2 linked regions of the Homo sapiens genome follow. The protein of the gene in region 1 purifies or fractionates together with the protein of each later gene. This does not show direct contact. Each region holds a gene or a part of one and is shown on either strand. Other genes may lie near its edges.

Region 1 (3,500 bases):
TTGTCAGATTGAGGAAGCTCCCTTCTATTCCTGATATGCTGAGAATTTTTATCAAGAATGGGTATTCAATTTTGTCAAATGCTTTTTTGGTATCCTTGAAATAATGTGAAATTGAAGATACAAAGGATGGATAGAAATTTGACCAAATTGGCCTGGTGCGGTGGCTCACGCCTGTAATCCCAGCACTTTGGGAGGCCGACACAGGTGGATCACTTGGGGTCAGGAGTTTGAGACCAGCCTGGTCAACATGGAAAAACCCTGTCTCCACTAAAAATAAAAAAATTAGCCGGGTGTGGTAGCACGTGCCTGTAATCCCAGCTACTCGGGAGGCTGAGGTGGGAGAATTGCTTGAACCCAGGAGGCGGAAGTTGCAATGAGCTGAGATTGTGCCACTGCACTCCAGCCTGGATGACAGCCAGACTGTCTCAATAAAAAAAAAAAAAAAATTTTGACCAAATTTGTTTTGCTTATTTTTATTTTGTTGCTATTATTGTTTTCCAGAAATGGTATAGTTTGTAGATGCTGTTGTTAATAAAAAAAAAAACAGATTTTCATTTGAATTTGATTTGAATTTCTGTGTTGAACTCACCGTAATTCAAGAAAATTTGCTATAAAATATTTACAGGTCTGAAGAGTTCTTACTTTTATCAGTGACATCATGAGTTGGTGGCAGTGTTTACAGAGCCTGAAAATAATTCAGATAGGGGCTTTGGGTGTATGACTTCTAGGCATTATAGCATATGTGTGTTTTATATAGTATATAATGTAGGCTTTATATGAGGTCATACATGTAAATATTTAGGAAATTTTAGCTGTCATTACTTGTAATTAATCATAAGATCACATTATTGTTCCAAAGCAAATATGGCCTTCAGTAAAGTTGTTAATTGTTGCTTTGTTGTTGTTTTTGTTTTTTTCTTTTCTCTAGACAGGGATGACGTTGAATGAGCGGTTTGGGATCCTGAAGGAACAAAGAGCCACTCTCACATACAACAAAGGGGGAAGCCGCTTTGTCACCGTGGGATAGGTCCCATGTCAAAGGAACTTTTGAGTGATGACTCTGAGAAGTTGAATTGCTTGAAGAGTTCATCACGGAAATTCAAGAAACTTTACTTCAAAATATTCACAAGGCTAAATAACTCTTATTTTTATTTTTGAAGGTTTTTTTTTTTAAAAAAAAAAACGTATAAAATAATGCCCTGAAAGAATAATAGGGATTATACCTGTCTGTTCTTAAAGATTTCATGGTTGGCTCAGACAGAACAATCATCTGTTTGACTTCTTTGGTTCCTCATGCAGCAGAAGGAAGACAGAAAGATAGAAATTGATTATTTTTATGATAGCAGTATTCAGGATCTCATCACCTTTGCCCGTGTTTTAGACTTTGTCATGGTAAATCCTGGTCTTCATAAACATGAGTAGGTCCCTTGGTTGCTGTCACTTGCCCTTTAATAGTGTTGATGTAGTCAGTGCCGTTGCCTTTTCTTCATTAGAGACACAGAACAATGTATTAGAATTTCCAGCTGTGGGTTTGAAGACTTAGGGGGACATCCAGAACGTGCTTCCTCTTTCAGACGGTGTAAAGTCCCCTGGAATTACACAGCTTTAGTGCTGAGCTTTTAACAGGAAATGTGGCCCTAGGTATTAGTCTTAGTTTAAAATGTTGGTGTTTAGAGACTGTAAATGCATATTCACAAAGTTATCTGATAGGGCCTTGGAGGAGAAGGTCCAGTTTTAAAAAATGACAGTTTGTGTTTAATAAATGAAGGCATGAGAGGAAGTAAGTAGCAAGTTGAAGGACAGGTAGTTGAGATGAAACACTTCAAAACCCTGGTTATAGATGTACTGTTTGGATGTAGCATAGTCTTGAGTCTAGCGTCCACAAAGAATTATTCAAATGATATTTAGAAGAATTATAACTATTACATTGAATGGAGTCCCTTGGATATTTTGATAGTAAAATTAATAGCCATAAAGTCCTAGACTTCTTATTTGAAGTTAAAATTTCTTATTTGAAAAGTTGAAATTTATGAGCTTTGAAGATTGCTAAATTAAATAATTTATAGCTCCAAAAACAAAAATATACTTGTATATGTCACAGAGAAAAAAAATGCAAAATTTATAATAGAGTTACATTAACCTTGTTGTTTACCTTTCACTGATTTCTTATATGGTATAAATTAAAGTTCAGGCATTTATGGGGAGAAAAGGCCCTCCCCACCGACCCGCCACCTGCCACCTCTGACGGAGTGGGAGAAGTTAGTCTGTGCTAAGATAGTACTGAGTCCCCAGATGTTGTATACTGTAAATTACAGTATAATGCCAAATGCAGCAAAATCTTCCAGCTGTACGTTACAAGTTTGGTCATTTTGAAGCTTGACATTTTAGTTTGCCATTATGTTAAAAACATCTAAATAGGTGTTAGTTTCTCAGGAGTAGATTGTTAGTGTTGACTTTTCCTGTAAAGCAGACATCGTTCTTGGCCTGCCCTGCATTGTATACTAGATTTCATTGTTGTCTCTCATGCTTCTTGAGTTGCTTCATGGTTTATGCTCGCCATGGAAAGCTATCAGTAACAGTTTCATGCTTATACCAAAGAATTAAATCTGATCTTTAATATCTGATATTTTCCTGGTACTCGTACTGATAAGGGATTATTGGAAGTCAGTCACAGAATTTGGAAATAAATTCTAGTCTCTCCTTAGCTATTTGATGCTTTTCATATAGGCCAAGAACTCATTGCAAAACATTTTTGCAAGGATGAATGCCTGTATTTGGTCTAGGAACAGTACATTTTAGTCTGATTTAGAATTACTGGTAGCTTATTTTAAAGCAAGGAAAAGCAGCTGAGCTCAAGTTTGCTGTCTTTAGAATGGTTTGTGAAAATATGGTATAAAGGTGTTTTCATTTTCCTGTTCTTACCTATTATTGTATAGAGCTATTCATGCCATTTTTTGGGAAAACTTTAAAAATTGCCCCAAATACTGACATTGAGTGCATTAAATAACAAATTATCTTTGATACATTAAACTTTTATTCTTCATGCATCTGTAATTTAATTTTAAGTATAATGTTTTGCCTTTGGTACAACTAAATTAAAACTCTTGGTGGTCACATATTGTATATAAACAAAACAATATGCTTTGTTGAAGGAAAATTTTCTTTATTGGAATGTGGTTGTAATCCTTGTTCAGTTCTTAAGTTTCGGTTTTTTTTAAAAACAGGATGCAACTTAAACTTTTCTTTGCATCAAGGTATATGCAAAACATTGGTGCCGTGCATCACCAAATGAAAGTTTGTATTTAACGAGGAGGTGCTTTACACTGTACTTTTTGGTGTTTTTTGGAAAAGTTACATTTAGATCTATTCTGAAGCTGTTCATTTTTAACAAATAAAATGTTACAGGTTTCACATGATTTATTCTCAGCTCTAAAGATTGAGTTGTGGTTTTTAGATTGTTCTATGTTACGAAGAACTTTGTAGTGGTTATCTATATTTGT
Region 2 (3,500 bases), on another chromosome or scaffold:
AATTATGGCCTCCAGCTGCATCCATGTTGCTGCAAAGGACATTATTTCATTCTTTTTGGTGGCTGTGTAGTATTCCATAGTGTATATGTAATATATTTTCTTTACCCAGTCCACCAATTATGGCCACCTAGGTTGATTCCATGTCTTTGCTGTTGTGAATAGTGCTGCAATGAACATGCCAGTGCATGTGTCTTTTTGGCAGAACACTTTGGGTTTTTTGGGAGGTATATGCCCAGTAACGGGATTGCTGGATTGGATGATAGTTATGTTTTAAGTCCTTTGACAAATCTCCAAACTACTTTCCACTGTGGCTGAAGTCATTTACATTCCCACCAACAATGTATAAGTGTCCCCTTTTCTCTGCAGCCTCTCCAGCATATATTATTATTTGACTTTTTAATAACAGGCATTCTGATTGGTGTTAGATGGTATCTCATTGTGGCTTTGATTTGCATTTCTCTGATGACTAGTGATGTGTAGCATTTTTTTTTCATATGTTTGTTGGTTGCTTGTGTGTCTTCTCTTGAGAAGTGTCTGTTCATGTCCTTTGCCCATTTATTAATGGGGTGATTTGCTTTTTGCTTGTTGATTTAAGTTCCATATAGATTCTGGATATTAGACTTTTGACAGATGCATATTTTGAGGATATTTTCTCCTATTCTGTAAGCTGACTCTTTACTTTGTTGATAGTTTCTTTTGCTGTGTAGAAACTCTTCAGTTTAATTAGGTCCCTCTTGTCAATTTTTGTTTTTGTTGCAGTTGCTTTTGGGGACTTGGCCAAAAATTCTTTGCCAAGGACAGTGTTGAGAAGGGTATTTCCTAGGTTTTCTTCTAAGTTTTTTATAGTTTGAAATCTTACATTTAAATTTTTAAGCCATCTTGAGTTAATGTTTGTATATGTTGAAAGGTAGGGCAATATGGTTTGGATTGGTGTCCCCACCCAAATCTCATGTCTAATTGTAATCCTCAATCTTGAAGAAGGGGCCTGGTGGGAGGTTATTGGATCCTGGAGACAGATTTCCCCCTTGCCATTCTCATGATAGTGAGTGAGTTCTCATGAGATCTGGTTTAAAAATGTGTGGCATCTTACCCCCCGCTTCCTCCTTCTCCGGCCATGTAAGACGGGCCTGCTTCCCTTTCACCTTCTACCGTGAGGCTTCTCAGCCATGTTTCCTGTACAGCCTGTGGAACTGTGAGCCAATTAAACCTCTTTTCTTTATAAATTACCCAGTCTCAGGTAGTTCTTTATAGCAATACAAGAATGGACTAATACATAGGGGCACAGTTTCAATCTTCTGCAAATGGCTAGCCAGTTTTCCATGCACCATTTATTGTATTCACCTTGCTTGTTTTTCCATTTCTTACTTTTAATTGAGATAGTTCAGTTATCTCTTTTGTCTAGGAGGAGCACAAGCAACTCTAAGACATTTTGGCCAGAGAAAAATGTTTAACGTGTTTTGAGTTGACAATGAAAATGTATATATATAATAATTATACTTTTATCCCATACTATATCATTTTCTCCTCCTTTGGAATATATTTTTAGATATTTAATTCCATGTTACAATAATTATGCCTGTATTTATTGTTAATTTTAACATCGCAAATCCCAGAGGGTAGTACTTGTCATCTTGAATGCATTAATGCCTAGCACCTTGGCACTCCTGTGATGATGTTGTCTGAAATTGGCTTGCTCAGAATAAGACAGAACATGTCCCAGGTCTAGTGGCAGCCAACTGTAGTTAATTGTCTCTAATCAAGATGCCAAGGAGAACTCATTTCTAATAATCTGTGCAACTAGGTAAGGGTGCAGGCTTTTAAAAATACTCATCACCTAAACACACTTGATATTTGGGGGTTTTCATTGGTTATTCTTCTCTGCTGTTAACGAAACTCTTACATAGTTTATGGGGTATTAGCAGGTAATAATAATAGTTTCCAAATTCTTTGTGGGAATTTACAAGCATTTACATTTACATCAACTCATTTCATCTTTAGACCACCTCTAGACAAATACTAATATCTCAGTTTTACAGTGGACAGAATAGAAGCCCACTTAGTTTAAATGACTTGCCTAAAGTTACATAGCTAACATGAAATAGACCTGGGTTCAAACTTGTGTTTCCTGACTTCAAGTCCCATGCTTTCTCAGCTATACCAAGGTGTTGTGACTCTACCCCCGCCTTTGAACTTGGAAATAGAGGGGTATTACCAAGTATTACTGGGTTAGCTCAACCTAATCATAATTGCCCCAGAGGCCACCTCTAATTGATAATATTAAGCATACTTTATTAAGGTTCCATAGAGAACCACTGACAAGGTTTCTACAAGGATATTAACACACACTCCACAGCTTTACTTCTGATTGAGCTCTGTTATTCTCTGGCACAGTCTTCCTAAGACCAATTAATAGTGATCATGGCAGTCAGCCTGTTATCTTAGGATTCAAAGAAAATATCTACATAAATATAGCAGTCAATCCATTGAAGTAGTGACTACAATACTGAACCTGAATAAAATTTAGTTTACTAAATGAAGATATGCAGATTCAATAAATGATTATGGACCAACATTTCATCAGCAACTGCTATAAATGTGAAAAATCATTATTTTTCATATATACACATGATCATCAGACCCACTAAAGGTAATTCATGTGACCAAAACTTTCTGCTGCTAAGAGATTAAAATGCATGTTAATCAGTAGAATTTAAGAAAGCCAGAGTAAAATGTAAATTGTGATGAAATCATTAAAGGAGTAACTTGAAAAACCTTCTATATCCTGGCATAAAAGTGATTATAGCACAGAGGACAGAATATTTTATTTCTTGACCTTGATTATGAGTATTGTTATAGGTTCTTGAATTTTCCTTAGGTCAGAATAGAGACATTAATTCTAAAGCAGTTAGAGAAATTAGTCTCTTTATCTCTTTCCTTATAGTTAATAGCATAGAGAAATAAATCTCTAAACCAATTTGAAACAGGATTTAACTGTCATTTCACTTATGTGTCTCTTCATTTTCTTTTACTCTATAACAGAAGTTTTTAAAAATAAAACTATTTTGATTTTCTTTTCAGTTCTAGGCCTGATTCTTCACTACCTGAGACGTCTAAAAAGGAGCACATCTCAGCTGAAAACATGTCTTTAGAAACTCTGAGAAACAGCAGCCCAGAAGACCTCTTTGATGAGATTTAACAGTCTCAAAAAATACTTTGATGTTCACTAGACTATGTTTTCTATTCATTTCTTTAAAATGAAAAAGGAGAATTTCAAGTCAGCAGCCGCTATTACCGTATCTTACAATTTAATTACATACACAGTGAATTGAAACCATTGTGCAAAATGGATTACACATGTATACAAAGATACGATTTGATGATGACACTGGCACATTATTCTAAACTATTCATTCAGCATGCCTATAATTACATAAATTGTATGAGACTTTTTGTTGCAAAGGACACATTTATCATATTCATTCACACATATTATATGTGAT

Evidence for each region.
Region 2: the proteins of FYTTD1 (region 1) and XRCC4 purify together in Homo sapiens (affinity purification with mass spectrometry; 2 studies listed by BioGRID and IntAct, with this or other methods). This does not show direct contact.

Annotation. Positions count from the first base shown.
Region 1 is NC_000003.12:197,780,883-197,784,382, forward strand, and holds part of FYTTD1 (UAP56-interacting factor), read left to right. Parts: intron 1-928; coding exon 929-1,027; 3' UTR 1,028-3,500. UniProt on the Homo sapiens protein: Required for mRNA export from the nucleus to the cytoplasm. Acts as an adapter that uses the DDX39B/UAP56-NFX1 pathway to ensure efficient mRNA export and delivering to the nuclear pore.
Region 2 is NC_000005.10:83,350,047-83,353,546, forward strand, and holds part of XRCC4 (DNA repair protein XRCC4), read left to right. Parts: intron 1-3,078; coding exon of another isoform or gene 3,079-3,084; coding exon 3,085-3,196; 3' UTR 3,197-3,500.